3 linked regions of the Homo sapiens genome follow. The protein of the gene in region 3 interacts with the protein of the main gene of each other region in a pairwise test. Each region holds a gene or a part of one and is shown on either strand. Other genes may lie near its edges.

What was found. The genes of interacting proteins can lie anywhere in the genome.
Region 1: the proteins of PINX1 (region 3) and AIDA interact in binary tests that used the Homo sapiens proteins (3 or more experiments, as listed by UniProt).
Region 2: the proteins of PINX1 (region 3) and TNPO2 interact in binary tests that used the Homo sapiens proteins (3 or more experiments, as listed by UniProt).

Annotation. Positions count from the first base shown.
Region 1 is NC_000001.11:222,709,492-222,716,571, forward strand, and holds the start of AIDA (axin interactor, dorsalization-associated protein), read right to left. Parts: upstream 3,001-7,080; 5' UTR 2,827-3,000; coding exon 2,717-2,826; intron 1-2,716. Other genes in the region: BRO1 domain-containing protein BROX, read left to right, coding at 4,142-4,176, 6,193-6,309. UniProt on the Homo sapiens protein: Acts as a ventralizing factor during embryogenesis. Inhibits axin-mediated JNK activation by binding axin and disrupting axin homodimerization. This in turn antagonizes a Wnt/beta-catenin-independent dorsalization pathway activated by AXIN/JNK-signaling.
Region 2 is NC_000019.10:12,713,933-12,720,932, forward strand, and holds part of TNPO2 (transportin-2), read right to left. Parts: coding exon 6,947-7,000; intron 5,405-6,946; coding exon 5,329-5,404; intron 5,247-5,328; coding exon 5,097-5,246; intron 1,808-5,096; coding exon 1,701-1,807; intron 1,607-1,700; coding exon 1,473-1,606; intron 1,393-1,472; coding exon 1,311-1,392; intron 1,238-1,310; coding exon 1,115-1,237; intron 1,008-1,114; coding exon 889-1,007; intron 1-888. UniProt on the Homo sapiens protein: Probably functions in nuclear protein import as nuclear transport receptor. Serves as receptor for nuclear localization signals (NLS) in cargo substrates.
Region 3 is NC_000008.11:10,822,876-10,829,875, forward strand, and holds part of PINX1 (PIN2/TERF1-interacting telomerase inhibitor 1), read right to left. Parts: intron 3,370-7,000; coding exon 3,277-3,369; intron 2,569-3,276; exon of another isoform or gene 2,498-2,568; intron 1-2,497. UniProt on the Homo sapiens protein: Microtubule-binding protein essential for faithful chromosome segregation. Mediates TRF1 and TERT accumulation in nucleolus and enhances TRF1 binding to telomeres. Inhibits telomerase activity. May inhibit cell proliferation and act as tumor suppressor.

The DNA of each region.
Region 1 (7,080 bases), on a different chromosome or scaffold from region 3:
AAAAATGAAAAAAATGAAGCAGGATGGGGAGCAGGAGGTGTGAAACTGAGATAGAGGCAGTGGGGTTGGACAAGAGACTTTGCAATTTTAAACAGGGTGGCCAGAGACAGCCTCACTGAGGATATTTGAACAAAGACCTGAAGGAGGTGACAAAGTGACCCAAACAGATAATGGGGGGAAAAGTGCCCCAGAAAAAAAATACGAGAGCCCTAAGGCAGAACTATGTTCCAGGAAATAGCAAGGAATGTGGGAGCACTTACTCTTTTCATACTTCCGTAATTGCAACACCCAGTTACTCTAAAATCTTCCATTGGCTTCTCAGTGCTTTGAGGGCAGAAATCAAATTTTATTCATCTTTGTATCCCTAACCCTTAGTTGTTGAGTCATGAAATTGTTTAAGCTACAGTATTATTACATTATGAGAATACAGATATGCACTATCTCTCCCCCTACATCCCTCGCATAAAGCAGCTCCTGTGTGTTGTATGGCGATAAGATTGCTGCCTACCCAATTAGAAATCCCAACGATCCTAGACTCTTCCTCCTTCTACACCCTCGACATCCAGTCAGTAACTAAATCCTGTCAATTCTTGTTTACATCATTATAGTGGCCCCCAATTGGTCTATTTTGCTGCAGCCTTTCCTCCCAGATATTTCAAATGAAAAAGATAATTTGCATTCATTTCTGGATATATTAGGTAATTTTAAACTCTTGACCTCATTTTATATGTAGCCTACATGTTTACAGAATTTAAGCCAATCATTACATGTTTTCACTGAAATTTGACCCTGGCAGTTTTTATAATTTGAGGACTACTAGAATCATGAAGTTCAATGGTTAGTACTGAGGTCCAACAATGGATCTGCACATGCCTATCACCCTCACCTTCATGTTCCTAGAAATTCAAACTAAACAGCTTGCATATTCAATTTTCCTTTGTAATTTCAATTGGACATGGTATTCTTCACTTTCCATTGTGAAGTCGGCTGCCCAGTGTCAACAGCTGCTAGGTCTCACCACCTCACAAGTAAGAGATGGCTTTCTATTTCAAACTATGCAATATTAGTTAATATACAGAATGGGTATACATAGGTGCTTACTAATTGGCTACAGTATGGAAGGGTGTGTTCTCCAGTAATAAAGAAAATCTTATCATTTGTCTAATTCACTTACAGAATTACTCTCTCAGTACATCTTAAGCACTCTGTAGTAGAGACAGGATTTGGATTTTCTTTTTTAAATCCCAGATTTCAGTGGTATCAGCTTGTGACCTGAGTAATCTGTTTAACCTGAGCTTCAGTTTTCCTCATTTCGTAAAATGAGAATAATTATATTCTCACTGGGTTATTGCAAGAGCAAATGAAATCATGTGAAAGTGCAAAACAAATGCTAGTAGTTGTTACACATCGCAAAATGGCTCAGAGCACGGGTTTTTGTCAGAGCTTTTTGAAGCTACAGGCGATTCAAAGTCAGTACCTACACATTTAAATTATCTTAATAGATAAAAACAAATAACTATTGCGGGGAGACGATAAGAGTTTAGATCTTCCAAGTACCAAGCGTATATTCTTGCCAGAAATCGTTGTGTGTCGGGGGCGGATGGGGGGTGGGGGAGGCCGGGGGTATTCTACTCATACGTGGTTTCATACTCAGTGAAATCTCAAACAATAACTTGCTTTAAACAGAGAATAATTAATGGCGAGTTTGCAAACAATAGCATTTTGGCAGACAGTTCTTAAGTTCAGTAAAATGTGCAAAAACCTAAGCAAGGTTTTATGTGTATATAAATCTTGTCTTTTATTTTTTAAGACAACCCTGAAGTTTTCTGTGGAAACCAGAAAGGGCAAGAAATTGGTCTTAGGTTGCTCAAGGAAACTGGTACTCACTTGTACCCTGCGGCTATACATTATATACAGGAAAAGGAGGAGGGATCCAAGGAGGGCGTGGAGCTCCTGTGCGTGGTCCATTAATTCACATTTTGCTCTCTTCGGTTCACATCCTGCGCGGACTCCACCCAAGGCAACCGAGCGAGGGGGTGGGTGGGACTCACAGCCTACCAAATAACAGTCCCAGAAACCGAAACGAAATCGAGGTGGAATTCTGAAAACACGGCTCACCAGAAAGAGGGGTGGAGAAGGAGCGCGAGAGGAGACCCTTCTTTTGGCAGAAGAGGTATCCCTGGCCCTCGTTGCTTCCTGGGCTCCCCCCCATCCCCTCAATCGCAAACAGTTCCCTCCTTTCCTACGCATGGAAGAAGGAAGACACACACAGAGCAAGGCCACTCATCCTTGGAACGTGGGCGGAGAACACACAAGTATTCCTCAGAGAATTTCAAAAGGAAATCGAGGAAAAGCAACCTGGGAGAGGAGGAGGAAAGGAAACTGACTGCCAAGTGGGGGACCCGCGAGACGGTGGAAAGGAACTAAGCAGATAGCCTGCTGGGGCCTGCGCCCCAGGAAAGAAGGGCTACCTGTTGAATGGAACTGTCCCTGCGGAGGCGGAGAGGGAAGAAGGCGAGTCACCCCAGAGAGCGGAGCCGTTGTCCCTAGAGCAGCCTCGCTGGGGCTGGTGGCGAGGGATCTCAGCCCCAGTGCCTGCGGAGCCCCACCCTGAGAAGCCTTGGCTGCAGATACGGTGATGAGAGACACCGACAGAAACAAGGGAGAGGCGCACGACTGGAGCCGGTCTGGCCTGCTCCCGCGGTTAGTCACTCACATCTGATACTCGTCTATCGCCTCCACCAGCTGGCCCCAAGAGTCGAAGTCGGCGCCTCTCCTAAAACTGGCGCCCCAGCGCTGCAGCAGACTCCGGGTCACCTCCGACATGGCCGGTCCCCACCCCGTCCCCTCCCGCCCCTACCCCAGCAAGGCCGGGTTCTAGGGCGCCATCCTCCCCCGGCCTGGCCCCGACATTAACAGGGCCAGGAGGAACCGCTACGGCCACCACCGCCACCCGCCGAGGAGCCGCCCAAGCCCATTTGCCGCCACAGCCAAACTTTGCGGCTCCAAAGCGACCGCCCCGCCGAGACCCCGCCCCCGAGGCCCCGCCCCGGGTTAGGTTGAGGCCGCCCCACTGCGCCGAGGGCCGCCATCGCTATTGCGGCATTCTCCCTCGGCTCCGGAGGTAGGGGCAACTCTTCTCTTCCTGTCTGGGAAAAAGACCATAGCTCAAAAGGAAGGCCGAGGGAGAAGTTAGAAAGGGATGATGAACGAAGCGTTTTGAGGGGACTGCAACGCCGCGGCAATACCCGCCCCTGAGCTGCGCGCACTACCGCCTCGGTAGCTATCATGGCCGCCGGGTCACGTGACTCCGGCTTGGCGCCGTCCTGGTTTTCCGTCACCCTGGTTCTGTAGTCTCGGTTCTCCGACTCCCTCTTTTTCTCGCTTGTGGACTCCGATATATTGCCCTTCTTCCCTTAGAAGAACTGCTGAACCGACTCTGAGAAATTTGGTAAGTATGTCAGAGGATGGGTGTTTCTCAGTAATATCCCCCGCTACTTCCCCGGAGTCTCAAGCAATAGGATCACCCCCTTTTACATTAGTCTCCATAGACCCCTGGACAGTGGACCAAAAGTCTCCTTCTAGTGCCTTGAAACAAACGACAGAAAGAAAATCCATATTGGTCACCACAAATCAGTGGCATTAACAGCTAGATCCGCTGAATCCCCTTGCCCCGCATCTCCATTGGTCATTGGAGAGCTTATAATACAAGCTAAACTGGGGTTCGTTCGGCCGTTGTCTGGCCACCTCTCCCGGGTTGACAGTATCGGCTTTCCACAAAAATGCCTGTTTGGAAAGAGGGGAACTCAAGTGTTGGCGCGTGCGCACGGTCGCCGCCCGCTGCCTCGAACGGGACTGGGCACGGGAGGAAGAGGCTGGGTGGTAAACAGGAAGTGGGCGCTCAGAGCTCGGGGGCGGCGCTCAGGTAGGTTCCTCTGGGGACTCGGGGCTTCCGGGGTGGGGGTCCCTTGTTAGGAGCGGGAGTCCTCTTGTGGAAGTGTGTTAGCTTACAGCTTCGATCCGAATGTTGTATTGGTGGCTCTAAAGGCACCCTTGTCCCTGCGGGTGGGTGTGTCGTTCTTCTATCCCACCCTAGGAACTCCCGAAAACTGAAGACCGCCGGGTCGCAGAAGGGGAGAAGATGGGGCAGGGGCAGAAACCCTCTTCTTTCCTGAAGTAAAGATTCGCAAAACTTCAGACATTTTCATCCAGGAAGTAGGAGGCCGCATTAAAAGAAGTATTTGTGGAAGATTTCGCAGCCTCAAGTGCTGAGTGTGATATTATTTGTAGGCACATAGATGCTGTATTAGGCTATCGGAATTTATATGGAAGATGTGTAGAAGATGATATTTTCTGAAATAACTCGTTAAATGTTTTGAGTCCTAAATAAACCTGCTCAGTTTTTCGTTGGGTACACACTGTATTCTCTATTCATTAAGTATGTGGTGCTCCTCAAAACCAGCTTTGTCATGAATAAATAGCATAAAGGAAGCACTTAATGTAGGCATTTCATACACTGTACAGCCACCATTATTTTCTAATACTAGGAAAAGTCGATTGTCAGAATTTTTTAGTGCCTTCAAATTAAATGAACCTTATCAGAATTTTTTCTCAGTTACTTCCTGGAATCTAATTGCCATGTTTAGGTCTTCGCCTGGGCTTTCTCCTTATTATCTGCTGCACTACCTACCCAAGGACATTTAGACAAGACATGCTGCTTTTTTTTTTTTTTTTTTTTGAGACGGAGTCTCCCTCTGTCGCCCAGGCTGGAGTGCAGTGGTGCCATCTCGGCTCACTGCAAGCTCCGCCTCCTGGGTTCTCCTGCCTCAGCCTCCCAAGTAGCTGGGACTACAGGCGACCGCCACCATGCCCGGCTAATTTTTTTTTTGTACTTTTAGTAGAGTCACCGTGTTAGCCAGGATGGTCTCGATCTCCTGACCTTGTGATCTGCCCGCCTCGGCCTCCCAAAGTGCTGGGATTACAGGCGTGAGCCACCGCGCGTTTTTTTTTTTTTAAGTAGAAGGCATGGAACTTAATTTTTTTTTTAAGTTGGCATCTCACTTAGGTGGTGTTCCAAGTTTTTGTTTTTTGTTTTTTTTTTCCTTTTTCCTTTTTTGAGATAGGATCTTGCCCTGTCGCCCAGGCTGGAGTGCCATGGGGAGATCAGGGCTCACTGCAGCCTACGTCTCCTGGACTCAGGGGATCCTCCCTCCTCAGTCTTCCCAGTAGCTAGAACCACAGGCGTGGCTACCATCCCCGGCTGATTTTTGTAGAGACCGGGTCTCACCATGTTGCCCAAGCTAGTCTCAAATTCCTGAGCTCAAGCGATCCACCCACCTCGGCCTTCCAAACTGCTGAGATTACAGGCATGAGCCACCATGCCCAGCCCAATGTTTTCATTTTATAATAGAATTTATTGATCAAGTATTGTATTACATTTTTATTTTAAAAATATTCTTTAGGTATTTTTTGGAAAGTACATTTTATTGTAGAACACATGCTATAACCAATCCACTGTTGTCAGCAATATGTCGGAAATACAGCAGTTAACTTAAAACGTATTACAAGTAGCCTTAGCGATATAATCAGGGTTACCATTTGAACCCGTTTTGGAAATTACGTTCATCTGGTCCTGTGCCCTTTTTACTTGCAGTTGTCCAACCAAAATCTAGTACTTTGCTATTCAAAAGTGTCTGGGGACCAGCAGCATCAGCATCTCAGGTCCTGCCCCAGGCTATTGAATTAGAGCCTGCATTGGACAAAACCACCCACCCCCAGGTGATTTTTATGTATATTACAGTTTAAACATTACTGCTCCTATATATGTATGTTAACATTGAAGTTATTGTGGGCAGATTTTCAAATGCTCTTCTGCTTTTTTTTATAGGCCTGATCTGAACATAGACCACCATAAATAGACAAAACATAACCTGAGGCCGGGCGCGGTGGCTCACGCCTGTAATCCCAACACTTTGGGAGGCCAAGGCGGGTGGATCACTTGAGGTCAAGAGTTTGAGACCAGCCTGGCCAACATGGTGAAACCCCGTCTCTACTAAAAAAATAACAAAATTTAGCCAGGCTAATTTTCGAATTAAATTTTTATACTATTGAAATAAATTGTTATGCTATTTACCTTGTTTATTAAATATTTTATATTTAATTTTTGTATATTTTTTACTTTTTTGTCTATAGAAAACATCTGGAGAAAATGACCCATTGGTTTCATAGGAACCCATTAAAAGCCACAGCTCCTGTGTCTTTTAATTACTATGGTGTAGTCACTGGCCCTTCTGCTTCAAAAATATGCAAGTAAGTTTATTGATTGAACCACTCTTAGATGCAAGGTACTTTTTTTGGTTCCATGGCAATACAGAAATATGTAACACACTGTTTCTAAGTTTGTTATAAATTTATAAATGACATTTAAGAGTTAAATCATAGATTATTTAAATTTGGCAGTCTTCTACGCCTGGATCCTTAATTTTAGATCAGTAAATGAGTCCCAGAGAGGCTAAAGCAATCACAGTAAAACAGTTAATCTGTATATTACAACAGTACAAGGGACTCTACAAAGTAGTGTATGGACATTTTTATTTTTTATTTTTATTTTTATTTTTATTTTTTGAGATGGAGTTTCACTCTTGTCGCCCAGGCTGGAGTGCAATGGCTTGATCTCGGCTTACTGCAACCTCCGCCTCCTGGGTTCAAGCAATTCTTTTGCCTCAGCCTCCCGAGTAGCTGGGATTACAGGCACCTGCCACCACGCCCTGGTCATTTTTGTATTTTTAGTAGAGACGGGTTTTCACCATGTTGGCCAGGCAGGTCTCAAACTCCTGACCTCAAGTGATCCACCTACCTTGGCCTCCCAAAGTGCTGGGATTACAGGCGTGAGCCACCATGCCCAGCTCTATAGGGACATTTTAAATTGGCCACATATTAAACTTCTTGACTTCAGAATAAGGAGAGATCCCTGTGACCTGAAATGGCCTTCAAAGTGTTCACACAGGAAAAAGTACTTGAGATAGGCCTTGAATGAATTGTATGGCTTAGATCAGGGGTTGGCGAACTGTGTCATATGGA
Region 2 (7,000 bases), on a different chromosome or scaffold from region 3:
GGTAGGAGGATTGCTTCAGCTGGGAGGTCAAGGCTGCAGTGAGCCATGATTTTGACACTCCACTCCAGCGTGGATGACAGAGCAAAACCTTGTCTCAAAATAAAAAAGAAAAAAATGATTTGGAGAGAGGCAAGCAATCCAAGTTTGTCAAGGAGGGTCAGTTTTAGGACTTTTGTTGGAAACACTGGTCGAAAATTTCTTTACTCTGAAGTTCCTAAGCTGGAAGGGCACAGAAGGCTACAGCACTACCCAGAGGGAAGGTTGTGCCTAAGAATGAAGCCAACACAAGGGAAGCAGATCTGAGACCACAAAGATGCCTTTCACATCCTTTGAGCTCCTGGATACAGCCATACCCCTGAAGCCTTTGTTGATTTTTCATTTCTTTTTTTTTTTTTTTTGAGACGGAGTTTTGCTCTGTCACCCAGGCTGGAGTGCAGTGGCACGACCTTGGCTCACTACAACCTCAGCCTCCTGGGTTCAAGCAATTCTCCTGCCTCACCCTCCCAAGCAGCTGGGACTACAGGCGCCTGCCACCACGCCCAGCTATTTTTTTATATTTTTAGTAGAAATGGGGTTTCACCGTGTTAGCCAGGCTGGTCTCGATCTTCTGACCTTGTGATCTGCCCGCCTCGGCCTCCCAAAGTGCTAGGATTACAGGTGTCAGCCACCACATGTGGCCATTGATTTTTCATTTCTTTCCACCTATCAGTTACCTAATTTTGAAGTCTTCAAAAAGTGGCATTCTTACCACTTACACATAAATATATACTGAATGTAAACTGACAAGGATGTGGACTGAGAGAAGCACAGCAGGTGACCAGAAGGGAAGGCAGAGGCATAGCAAGGGGTCGAAGCTGGGGTAGGACAGTGGGCAGCAGCAGCACTCACTGGACCAGATGGGAGGCCAGGACTTCCTTGCAGATGGGCTGCTCGGCCAGCGTCAGCCAGAACTCACAGGCCTCAAGGGCAACGTTCTCATCATGGTCCTGGGTCCTCTGCAGCATGTACTGTGGTAGGGGGGAGAAGCTGAGGCCTGGCCTGGCTGGGGGTGGCTCCCTGACCCCTGCCACCGGCCCCCTGCCTGCCCGCCTGGGCTGGCCTTGACCATGCACACCTGGATGATGCTGTGCATGTGGGGGATGAGCCTGTCAATCCGCACTTCCAGAAGCATCACCAGGGCACGGCACACATTCTTCCGCACCTCGGGGTCATCATCCACAGCCAGGGCAAATAGGTGCTGCAGGGAGGAACAGGGTCAGTTGTAGGGGCCCTCAGTCCTCGCCCTGCCCACCCCCAGCCCAGCGGCCCACCTCGATGAAGGTGTCAATATTGTCCATCAGCGCCTGGGCCCGGTCCATGATGAACTGGTTCACGCAGGCGATGGCGTGGGACCTGGCGGGGAGCAGACACGTGGGTCACCCTGACCCTGCCCACTCCAGGCTCCCTGGAAGCCCCCAGGGAGCTGCACCCACCGGATCTTGGGACTGCAGTGCTTGAAGAACTGCAGGAACTTGGGGATCATGATGTTGAGGGGCCTGTTGAGGGCGTCACTGTCCAGAAGCTCTGATGAGTCTTCACAGATCTTCTGCAGGGCTCCAAAGGCTCCCTGAGTGCAGAGGGGCAGAGAGACAAACGTGGGTGGTGGGTGGTGGTCCCAGCCCCCCAGTACTCGCTCTGGCCATCCATGGCTTCTTGCCTACCTCACAAGTGTTGTAATCCTCCGAGTTAAGCAGGTTGCAGAGCTGGGGCAGCAGCTCGGGCCACATCTGCAGCTCACCCTTGGAAGCGATGGTGGTGATGAGAATGCCTGGGGCGGCCGGGAAAGGACGCTGCCTGAGGCTGGGCAGGGGCTGCCTAGCACCTCCCCCTCCCACTGGACACCCCCAGTGCTGCCTTTCTGTTCCCTAGCCCATGTACGCCCTCTACATCCCCCCTCCTTTTTTTTTTCTTTGTAAGAGATAGAATTAGCTCTGTTGCCCAGGCTGGACTGCTGTGGCACAATCAATAGTCCACAGCAGCCTCAAACTCCTGGCCTCAAGCCATCTTCCTGCCTCAGCCTCCTAAGTAGCTGGGACTGCAGGCACATGCCACCACGCCCAACTAATTTTTAAAATTGTTTGTAGAGATGGGATCTCACTATGTTGCCCAGGCTGGCCTAAAACTCCTGGCCTCAAGCAATCCTCCTGCCTTGGCCTCCAAAAGCACTGAGATTACAGGCGTGAGCCACCGCTCCTGGCCTTGACATAGGTAGAAGGGTACTCCTTGACTCAGTAGGCACCCTGAGCCTTACTGTGAGTCAACTCTGTTCCAGGCCCTGAGGCACAGCACAGAGCAAAACACAAAATCCTCACCCTTGGGAGCTGGAAGCAAGCTATGAAGTAAAGATAAATTAGCAAAAAAAACTGGGAGGGGCCGTGCATGGGTGGCTCATGCCTGTAATCCCAGCACTTTGGGGGACCGAGGTGGGTGGATCACTTGAGGTCAGGAGTTCGAAACCAGCCTGGCCAACATGGTGAAACCCCATCTCTACTAAAAATACAAAAATTAGCTGGGTGTGGTGGGGGGCACCAGTAATCCCAGCTACTTGGGAGGCCGAGGCAGGAGAATCACTTGAACCTGGGAGGCAGAGGTTGCAGTGAGCAGAGATCGCGCCACAGCACTCCAGCCTGGGATGGAGCAAGACTCCATTTCAAAAACAAACAAAACAAAAACAAACAACTGGGAGGGGCCACATGCCAAGGACTAAGGGGGGAAATACAGCAGAAAAGATGGTGAGAAAGGGCTGTAGGTGAAGGTAGCAACTTTAAATTGGGTGGCCAGAGCAGGCCTCGTTGAGGTGACATCTTGATATCTGAGCCAAGGCCTGAAGGAGGTGAAGGAGGCGAGGGAGGAATCATCCAGGTTTCTGGGGAAAGGGCATCTGAGGCAGGGGACTCTATGGTGCAAAGGCCTGGCGTAAGGACAGGCATGATGAGAGAGGGAAAGGAGGTAAGGGCAGGAAGGTGGCAGGGATGCTTGTACTGCCTATTAGATATCCAGGAGTTACATACAGCAGGCATCTGAGGTGCCAGGACAGTGCACATATCTGGTGACAGAGCTGGATATGGGTTCTGTTAAGTGCAGAGATGGTATTTGCTGCCATGAGATGGCAGTGTTTCCCAAGGGTGGAAACTCAACGAGAGAAAGGTGCTCCCTGCAATGGGTAGGTACACAGTGAGGATTGTGGAACTTTAGCCACACCCCCTCATTCTGTGTGCCTCAGTGCTTCCAGCCCTCAGAAGAGATAAAGAAAACCAGCCTCCTAACTAAGGTTATCAGTAGGTTTCTTTTTCTCTCTTTTTTTTTTTTTTTTTTTTTGAGATGGAGTCTCACTCTGTAGTCCAGGCTGGAGTGCAGTGGCACAATCTTGGCTCACTGCAACCTCCACCTCCCGAGTTCAGGTAATTCCCCTGCCTCAGCCTCTGAAGCAGCTGGGATTACAGGTGCCCGCTGCCACACTCAGCAAATTTTTGTATTTTTAGTAGAGATAGAGTTTCACCATGTTGGCCAGGCTGGTCTCGAACTCCTGACCTCAGGTGATCCACCTGCCTCAGCCTCCCAAGGTGCTGGGATTAGAGGCGTGAGCCACTGTGCTCAGCCTGGATCAGTAAGTTTCAATGACTTAGCAAAGAGCCTGGCACATAGAATGAGCTCAGGAAGTCCACATCCTACTACTGGCCTGGGAGGGGGTTTTTGCAGGACTAAAAGTTACTTTTTATTTTTGAGATGGAATCTCAGTCTGTTGCCCAGGATAGAGTACAGTGGCATTATCTTGGCTTACTGCAACCTCTGCCTCCCGGGCTCAAGCAATTCTCCTGCCTCAGCCTCTCGAGTAGCTGGGATTACAGGTGCCCACCAGCTGTAATTCCCAAGTAATTTTTTGTATTTTCAGTAGAAACGGAATTTCACCATGTAGGCCAGGCTAGTCTCCAACTCCTGATCTCAAGTGATCCGCCTGCCTTGGCCTCCCAAAGTGCTAGGACTATAGGCGTGAGTTACCACACCCAGCCAGAAGTCATTTTTTTTGTTTTTATTTTATTTAGTTTTTTTTGAGATGGAGTCTTGCTCTGTTGCCCAGGCTGGAGTGTAGTGCCGCAATCTCGGCTCACTGCAACCTCTGCCTCCTGGGTTCAAGCAATTCTCCTGCCTCAGCCTCCTGAGTAGCTGGGATTATAGATGTTCACCACCACGCCCAGCTAATTTTTTTTTTTTTGAGATGGAGTCTCGTTGTATTGCCAGGCTGGAGTGCAGTGGCGCCATCTCGCCTCACTGTAACCTCCAACTCCTGGGTTCAAGTGATTCTCCTGCCTCAGCCTCCCGAGTAGCTGGGACCACAGGCGAGTGCCACCACGCCCAGCTAATTTTTTCTATTTTTAGTAGAGATGGGGTTTCACCACATTGGCCAGGATGGTCTTGATTTCCTGACCTTGTGATCCGCCCACCTCAGCCTCCCAAAATGCTGGGATTACAGGTGTGAGCCACCATGCCTGGCCAGCTAAGTTTTTTGTATTTTAAGTAGAGACGGGGTTTCACCATGTTGGCCAGGCTGGTATTGAACTCAACCTCTGGTGATTTGCCTACCCTGACCTCCCAAAGTTGCTGGGATTACAGGCGTGAGCCTATTCTTAGTCATCTTTCTGTAACTTCCTCAGGCCACCTTCCAAGAGTCAGAAAAGGCTCTGCTGAAAACCTAATTCCGTTGCACCTGAAACATGAATACCTGCATTATTTTAACTGCTATACCCTTAGCACTCAGCCCAAGGCCGAACACAAAATTCTAGATGTTGCATGACTGTCTCAGAGCCAAGAAGGACTGTTTCAGGAGGGAGTGGTTCCAGAGCGTGGCCCTGCACTGCCTCAGCTGTTTCTGACTTCTGCTGCTTACCCAGACAGGTCCCTTAATAGCTCAGCGCCTCAGCTTCCTCATCTATCAAATGGCAATAGTAATAGTACTACCATAGAGGGTGCCAGAGCATTCCATGAAGCACTACACTTAACATGCTGAGAAGTGAGAGTTCAGTGTGTCCTCAGAGGCCAACCCCCGCTGCCCCTCTCACCAATGGTGGCTCGGATGAGCGAGGAGGCATCGCCAATGTTGTTGAGACACTCCTGTTTGATGAAGTCTGCCACAGGGGGTGGGAAGCTCTGATAGTGTGCCTTCACGTTGTTCTTGAGGATGAGGCCACTGAGAGAGCGCGTTGGCTCATCTGGGAGGAGGAAGGCTGAGGTTCAGGGGCCCAGGGGGAGAAAGCAGGGTCCCGATCGCATGGAAGGGAGCAGAGGGCGTACCTTCTGACTTGAGTCTGGTCAGGACGAAAATCAGGTAGTTGTTGAAGTCAGGAAACTGATTGAGTTGTTTGAGTTTCTGCCAGGCTGTTAAGGGACTTGGAAGACAGAGGCCTTCCCCCAGCCAGGTCCCCTCATTATGTACCTGACACTATCTCTGACCACTGGGACCAGGCTGCCAGCTCCTGGGGGATCCCGCTCCCTAATAAGCCCACAATGACACAGAGCACCTCAGACACGTCAAATTCATATAAGGGGCCGGGCGCGGTGGCTCACGCCTGTAATCCCAGCACTTTTTGGGAGGTCAAGGCGGGTGGATCACAAGGTCAGGAGTTCGAGACTAGCCTGGCCAGCGTGGTGAAACCCCATCTCTACTAAACATACAAAAAAATTATCCGGGCATGATGTGTGCGTGCCTCTATTCCCAACTACTTGGGAGGCTGACGCAGGGGAATCGCTTGAACCCAGCAGGTGAAGGTTGCAGTGAGCCGAGATTGCGCCTCTGCATTCCAGTCTGGGCGACAGAGCAAGACTCCATCTTGAAAAAAAAAAAAATCATACAAGGAGTTGGGTGGAAATGTCTGAGTTTCCCATCCACTCCTGAAGACCCAGCCAGAGCAGGAGAGGGAAGGAGAATCCCACTCCTCTTAAAGTGGCAGCTACTAGTCAGCGATCCCCACTAACAGGCCATGAAGACTTTTTTTTTTTTTTTAAAAGAGGGAATCCAAATTTTGGGGTGAGTCATGCTCATGGTTTAAATATTTATTTATTTATTTTCAGACAGAGTCTCACTCTGTCACTTAGGCTGGAGTGCAGTGGCACGATCTCCGCTCACTGCAACCTCCGCCTCCCAGGTTCAAGCGATTCTCCTGCCTCAGCCTCCCAATTAGCTGAGATTACAGGCTTCTGCCACCACACCTGGCTTAATTTTTGTATTTTTAGTAGAGACAGGGTTTCTCCATGTTGGCCAGGCTGGTCTCAAAACTCCTGACCTCAGGTGATCCGTCCGCCTCGGCCTCCCAAAGTGCTGGGATTGCAGGCGTGAACCACCGCGCCTGGCCTATATATCTTTTCTTTGAGACAGGGTCTGGCTCTGTCGCCCAGGGTGGCTGGAGTACAGTGGCACAATCTCAGCTCACCACAACCTCTACCTCCTGGGCTCTAGCCATCCTCCCACCTCATCCTCCCAAGTAGCTGGGACTACATGTGCATGCCACCACACCTAGCTATTTTTTGTATTTTTTGTAGAGATGGGGTCTCCCTATGTTGCCCAGGCTGGTCTCAAACTCCTGGGCCCAAGCGATCTACCTGCTTCGGCCTACCAAAGTGCTCCGATTACAGGCATGAGCCACCCCGTTGGGCCAGGGCCTACTTTAATAGTTAATGGAGTAGATGCTAGCGTTCGATGAACATTAGGAATTTTCATCATTTTCTATAACAATCCCCGCAGCTCTGGAAATGGGACCCAGGAATTGTAATCCTTCTCTGTCCAGGGCAGATCCTCCGCACAGCAGAAAAAATCTGGGGACTAGGGGAGTCAGTCCCTCTCTTTCTCTCTCTGGCCTTTGGAAACTGCACGCATCTACCCGGCTCCCCCAGCCCCGGAAGGAAGGAAGGATACATCCTGCACGATGCGCTGAGTGGCTGTGTTGGGCGACTGTGAGTCTTTGAGCAG
Region 3 (7,000 bases):
ATGTAGGTAGCTTCAATAGTTTAGAAAATTCATTTGCATTATTCAATCAAGAAGGACAAATAAAATGACATACTTTTATTTTTATCTTTTTAAATGGCAAACACACAGAACTGGCAGTCAACCGAGGGCAGAAGATAAGGGTAACTCCACTAAAAGACACCATAAACCAGGAAAGTGGAAAGAGTCAGTGTGAGTGACACAGGTCAGACCTACCAGGTGCTACCTGATATTTATTTAAATGTCAAAAGAATCAGAAGAGGAGATTGAATGCTCCTCACTACCAGTGTGCAACTGAGGGGCGGGGCTGACTGCGCTGTGAATACCAATTCTGTATTTCCCGACCAGGAAGCCGAGCACCTGCACATGCGTTAGGCATGTAGTTTCCTTGTTTCAGTAGCATATAAAATAGCCCAAACTCTCAAAAGGATTAAGAAGTCTGCAAGATTCCCAGGATAAAGCTGCACAATTACAGTTTATGCAACTTTCATCCAACAACTGCATAACTGAGGGGAGGAAGCACTGCTCTCCTGCTCTCCTGCCAACGTCTCACCATCCAGTCAGAAAACCTCAGAAATGGCTTTGTATCGATTGACATTTTCCCCTCTGCAGATATAGCCTCTATCTGCAGAGACCTTTTGCATTAAAAAAAAATACAAAAAACTACAAACCAAGCTGGAGTTGAGCCTTTAAATAAGTATGATAAAACTGACATTTAAAATTATACAATAAATTAGCTCAAGTTAGAATTATAAACTCAGGACCAGGGAAAGGAATAATTATATATCAGAACTAAAACGATATAACCAACCAGGTGCAGTGGCTCACACCTGTAGTCCCAGCACGCTGGGAGGCTAAGGCAGGACGATCACTTGAGCCCAGAAGGTCAAGTCTGCAGTGAGCTGAGACTGTTCCTCTGTGCTCCAGCCTGGGCAACAGAGTGAGATCCTGTCTCAAAATAAAAATAAAAATAATGATACAGCTGATATTTAGGCAGTAGCAAATTTTACAACACTATTTGCTACTGTAATCTTAGTAGAGTAAAATTTTAATCTTCACTCTTCCCAAGCTATGTACAATTGCATCTTCCTGTTTGATTTCCTGGACGATACATGAGTTGCAATATGAATCATCCTCATCAACTAAGTGAATGAGTTACAGTCGTTATCAGCATACCCACTGGCGAAAATCTTTATTATCTACAATGCTGAAAAAGCAAAAGTTCCATGAAATGGGTCATTTCTAATAAATCATAAAACAGAACCTACCTTAGAACTTAATAGTCACTTACAAATGTATCCACATTTTACAAAAGAGGAAACTGAGTCTGAAGGGAAATGGGTAGGTGACTTGTCTGAGCGAGTAATGGCCAGAGTGAGATTTTCTGTGATCTAAGATAGTCCACCCTAGAGGAAACTTTAAAATAAGTGTGCACCGTGATTGGAAAGCTAGCTGATAAACCATTCTTTTCCTCACTCCCTGGACTTTTGCTTCCTTCTCCCTTTCCTACGTAGGCCCAGTCTGCATGTCCTTCCCGTCTCCACTCCAGCTCTTCTCTGCAATCTGACAATAGATCCGAGAATCCTTCTGTTCTGCATACTGACTCCCTCTTCTCCCCAGGCAAGGCTAATAGATACAGAACCCTCGCTGGAAGACAGAAAACGAAGGCACGAGGCACTCAGCGGTCTCACAGGGTCACCCAGCAAAGGAGTGGCTTAACTAGAAATAGAAAGCAGATGCTCCCGGCATCCATTAGATTAAAGCAGATTACAGAGGCTTATCCCAGCCTCAGCAAATGCTTCAGATGAAATCATGCATGCAGTCTGGCATCAAAGGAAAATTAGAAGATTCTACCTGTAAAAGTGAAAGCGTAAAAGGCTGCCACATCATCCGAAAGTTACAGGTCACTGAGTTTTATTAATTTGCTCTGCAACAGCACCTTCTGTGATCTCTAGTTTTTCTCTACAGTCTAATGAAAGAAGAAATGCTATTTCAGGGACTGGGTATGAAGTGAGCATGTACCCTCTCTTCAAAAGGACTGAGGGCCAAGGAAGCCTGTATTCTGTTCCATAGCACGCTGGGGTGGAGAAGAACCCCAGTCAGAAGGGATACGGGCGACAGCCAAGAAAGTTCCATGTGAGAGAAAGAACGGAGGAAGCGGAAGAGCCACGGCTGCTGGAGAGGGAAGGGAGGCCCAGCCTCTCCCTGCACACAATCCCCAATCCACTCAGCTCTGCCACGGCCTCTCACCTCAACCAAACCCAGCCCTCACTTTTGGGCTCCTGGCCCTAAATGAAAAGCATCATCAATACTTCAGAGTAGTGGGGATTCCAGCTCCCACTGCTATCCAGGCTGGCTGTACAAGTTAAGAGCTTCCCAGCAATGCCCTGATACGCATGACATTCCTAGAAGACCAAAGCAGAGATGTGCTGTTCCTGGCATATCAAGGTAGAAACACATCCAACCTCCCAGGAAAGAACCATCAACAGAGACTAGATATTACAGCATCAGCAGCATCATCACGCTTCTTATGTAAACTATGTAATAAGTAGGTTTCTAATTCATGATACTGTTCTACAGACAAACTGGGGAGTTGGTTCTATTAGGTTAAATTGCTTCTTTCCAATGCAAGATCGCCACCTAGTGGCTGAAGACAACAACCGCATGCACAAATGATTTCACATACTGGGAAGGGGCTAGGGAGGTGGTGATGAAGGAATAGGAATTCTCACCCAGGTCTCAAACGGCTTTTTACCCGACTTGGCAATGACTATGGAATGCCTACGCTGTGAAATGGAGAAATTACGTGGAATAAAGGGTCAACCAGGGAGTGTGCTTTATCACACTGGAGGTATCAATATAGAGCATAATTCTCTAACCTGGCGTATTAAAAGCTATTTAACACCAACTTTCAGCTGTGAAAAAACACCATGCAGCTAAAAATGTTGGGCAAGAAATTAAAATTATTTTCTGACCTAGCTACATAAAGTCCCGTTTTCCTCTAAATATAAGCTGATTCCATTTTTTAGCTCAGCCACAGGACTTGTTTACAGTCTAAAACCTAATCTGGGTCCCATCTCAGATCTCCTAGATCTGAATTCTAACAAGATCCTCAGGCACACCACAGTCAATGCGAAGACTCCAGCGCTGTTTCACAGCAATGCAGTCGGAGCTGTCCATAAAGCATGAAGTCGCTATTGGCCCAGAGCTAAAATGCTTCAAGCAACTCAGGACAAACACGTAGATTTCAATAACAAGTAAAGAAATGCTTAATCTTACCTTTTGTGAATTTCATATAGTGAACACGGTTTTTGGAGATTTTGGACTTTTCCTCAAGGCTAAAAGATTTCTTTTCCTTCTTGTCCGAGGAATCTTTAAAAAAGATGAAAAAAATACATTAAAGTCTTTCTAATCCAATCTCATTTATTCTCCTAACAGTGGATAGTCTTGAAAGAAAATTTTAGGAGCCCTATCATTAATGATTGAACTCTTTCATTCATTTGCTCTGCAACAGCACCCTTCTGCTGGATCTCTGTTTTCTTTCTAGGAGTCAAATGATTAGAAATATTTCCTTAATTTGCATACTATGGATCAGGCCAGGCTGCCCTCCAGAAATTTAGAAAATCCTTGAGGAAGAAATGGAAACTTGTGTTCACACAAAACCTAGACACAAATGTTCACATTAGCCTTATTCATCATAGCAAAATACCAAAAATCACCCCCAAGTCCTTCAACGTGTGAATGCATGAACAGCTGAGCAACCCCTGGGCCATCCTTACAGTGGAATACCACTCCACAGTAAAGAGCGGCGGCCGCTGCCACCGCAATGGCCAAAACAAACTCCAGGGCATTGTGCTTAGTCAGAGGTCCATCTACAAACATAACATATGACTCCATCTACAGAACATTCTCGACATGACAAAACTACAGAGAGAGAGGACAGATGAATGGTTTCGAGGGGACAAGGATGAAGGTACAGTGGGTACAAATACAAAGATGAGGCATGAGGTTGCTGTGCCGTGGTGGCCAATCCTGTATCTTCACCATTGTGGTTGCTGCATGAATCTGCACTTGTGATAAAATTGCACAGAACCATCCGCCCATGTACAAATGAATGGAGACCAAAAAAAGATGATGAAAACTGGCTAAGGTTTGTGGTGCAGTTGACAGTAACACCAAATGTCAACTTCCCGGTTGCGAAAAGCCACAGCAATGTAATGTCTCTCCACCCTGGGAGAACAGGGGGAAAGACGTTCAGGACTCTCTGAATTATTTTGCGAATTCCTACAAGCCTGTAATTATTTCAAAATAAAAAGTTCCTTTAAAAAGTAAATAAAGGTAAGACAGGTTAAATGATCACCTAAATACAGATCAGAGATGACGATTAGGTGACGCATGGAGGAGCAGCAATAGCTCCAAGCCACCTTTTCAGGGTTTCGGGAAGGACAACTGGAAGGGCAAAAGGAGCAGGAACACACCATTGAGGAAGACATCCGAGTGGTAACGCCTTTGACGGAAGGGAAAATGTGAGCCAGAAAGTAGGTCCTTGCCTGAAAGGTTGATCAGAGCAGGTTGATCTGGGGTTAGAGTCAATTATAAATTAGCTAGCCACCTGCATTCTCTCACCTGTATCTGCTTGTCAAGTTCAGACAGAAGAGTGCCACAGAAACGATCATAGGCAGAAGAGAGACTAAATTTTCCTACAGTTTTAAGAACATTCAGATATGAGGTTAGAGAAACTGGAAAAAAAGCAGCCGGGCGCGGTGGCTCATGCCTGTAATCCCAGCACTTTGGTAGGCCGCAGCAGGCAGATCATGAGGTCAGGAGATCGACACCATCCTGGCTAACATGGTGAAACCCCGTCTCTACTAAAAATACAAAAAAAAAAATTAGCCGGGCGTGGTGGCGGGCACCTGTAGTCCCAGCTACTCAGGAGGCTGAGGCAGGAGAATGGCGTGAACCTGGGAGGCAGAGCTTGCAGCGAGCCGAAATCACGCCACTGCACTCCAGCCTGGGTGACAGAGCGAGACTCCATCTCAAAAAAAAAAAAAAAAAAAATCCAACAAACCAACCTTCTTCAGAGGATATAAGAGAAATTGGAAAAAAAGAAACTCTCACCCTGACAGTGGAGCGAAACAAGCACGTGTCCATTCAACAACATGTGACTGCACTGCAACCCCTCCCAGGAGTCACTTATTTCAAAGGTATAGTTCCCTATGGGAACTATACAGCAGGCTCGAAAGAACGTGAAGGCAGATGTTCCGCACTTGAGGCAAAGCCCAGCACGGGCTCATTATTTCCACAAGCTGAAACATTCTCTTCTGCAGCCACTTCCCAGGGACACCTTGGATTTTTTGCAAAGACATCCTACCAGTAAATTCTTCTCTTTTGCACTTCATATGGCACATAACATTTTCAATGCTGATGTTCCAATCACAAATCACAGAGGAAGTTATCAGCTTAAAGCGGCTCCTACCGACTGCAAGTGTATGAGGGACGAGGCGCTGGACTGGAGGCTTTCCATGAATTCTTGGATTTCCTTCCCACAGCCACTCCATAAGAGAGCTGCTGTGATGCCTGAACTCACTACAGAGGACGACACTGATAAGGCACACCCAGGAAGCCCCCGCGATGGGACCGAAGCCCAGGCAGACATGACGCAGAGGCCACATCCTGAAGCACCACGCCGTGCCCTCACAGAGCAGCTCTCTCAGCCTTGAGAGGGCAGAAGAATCACCTGGTGAGCGTCTCTACCTTCTCAGCATGCAGGTATCAAGAAGGATGCGTGAGCACCGCCAGGCCTTGAGGAATCACTTTCTATCTATTTGTTCACGTGCACTCATGCCTGAAACTGCTCGGAGTCTGACTTATGCACCAATCTGGCCGTCCTTTCCCGGGTATCCCCTCCCACTTTACAAAGGAAAGGCACAACTTTCCTCTTACCGGGATCAATGAGGGACAAGGGAAAATACTGTTGTCAAAGCAGCAATCAAAGCAGCTGGCCCGGCCCTCACACCCCTACGCTAACCCAGCTCATCAGGAGGTGCACTGCCAAAGAGATGTGTTTAATAAGCATTCATTAAAATGTATAACAGATCTGCTAATTTTATTCACTGTGATCTACTAATCATGAGGGTAGGTGCAGTGGCTAAAGCCTGTAACCCCAGCACCTTGAGAGGCTGAGGTGGGTGGATCACAAGGTCAGGAGTTGGAGACCAGCCTGACCAACATGGTGAAACCCCGTCTCTATTAAAAATACAAAAATTAGCCAGGCGTGGTGGTGTGCACCTGTAATCCCAGCTACTCAGGAGGCTGAGGCAGGAGAATCGCTTGAACCCGGGAGGCGGAGGTTGCGGTAAGCCAAGATTGTGCCACTGCACTCCAGCCTGGGCCACAGAGCAAGACTCCATCTCAAAAAAAAAAAAAAAAAAAAGAGAGAGAGAAAATAAAACCCTAGATTCTTTATGAAATCCTTCAGAGTAAAGTAAATTTTCTGGCCTTAATCGTGGTTTATGGCTCTAGATTTGCCAGCCACACTATCAGGAGGCTTACAGTGCTGAGTATCTCTGCTTGCTTTTCTTAGATGTTATAATGCATTTAGTCCTCACAACAACCTTCCAAAGATGATACTACTGCTTCCATTTAACCAAAGAGGAAATCGAGGTACAGCCATGTTCAGCAATTTACCGAATGTCATACAAATGAAAAGTCAGACCAGGATTAAAATCCAGGCAGTCTAACTCTGGTGTTTGTCTCTAAACCACTGCATTCTATTTAATCTCCAAGTCTTATATGTTCATGCTTACATTCTTACATTCTTTTTTTTTTTGGAGATGGAGTTTCACTCTTGTTGCCCAGGCTGGAGTGCAATGGCGTGATCTCGCCTCACCACAAACTCCGCCTCCCAGGTTCAAGCGATTCTCCTGCCTCAGCCTCCAAGTAGCTGGGATTACAGGCATACGCCACCACGCCCAGCTAATTTTGTATTTTTAGGAGAGACAGG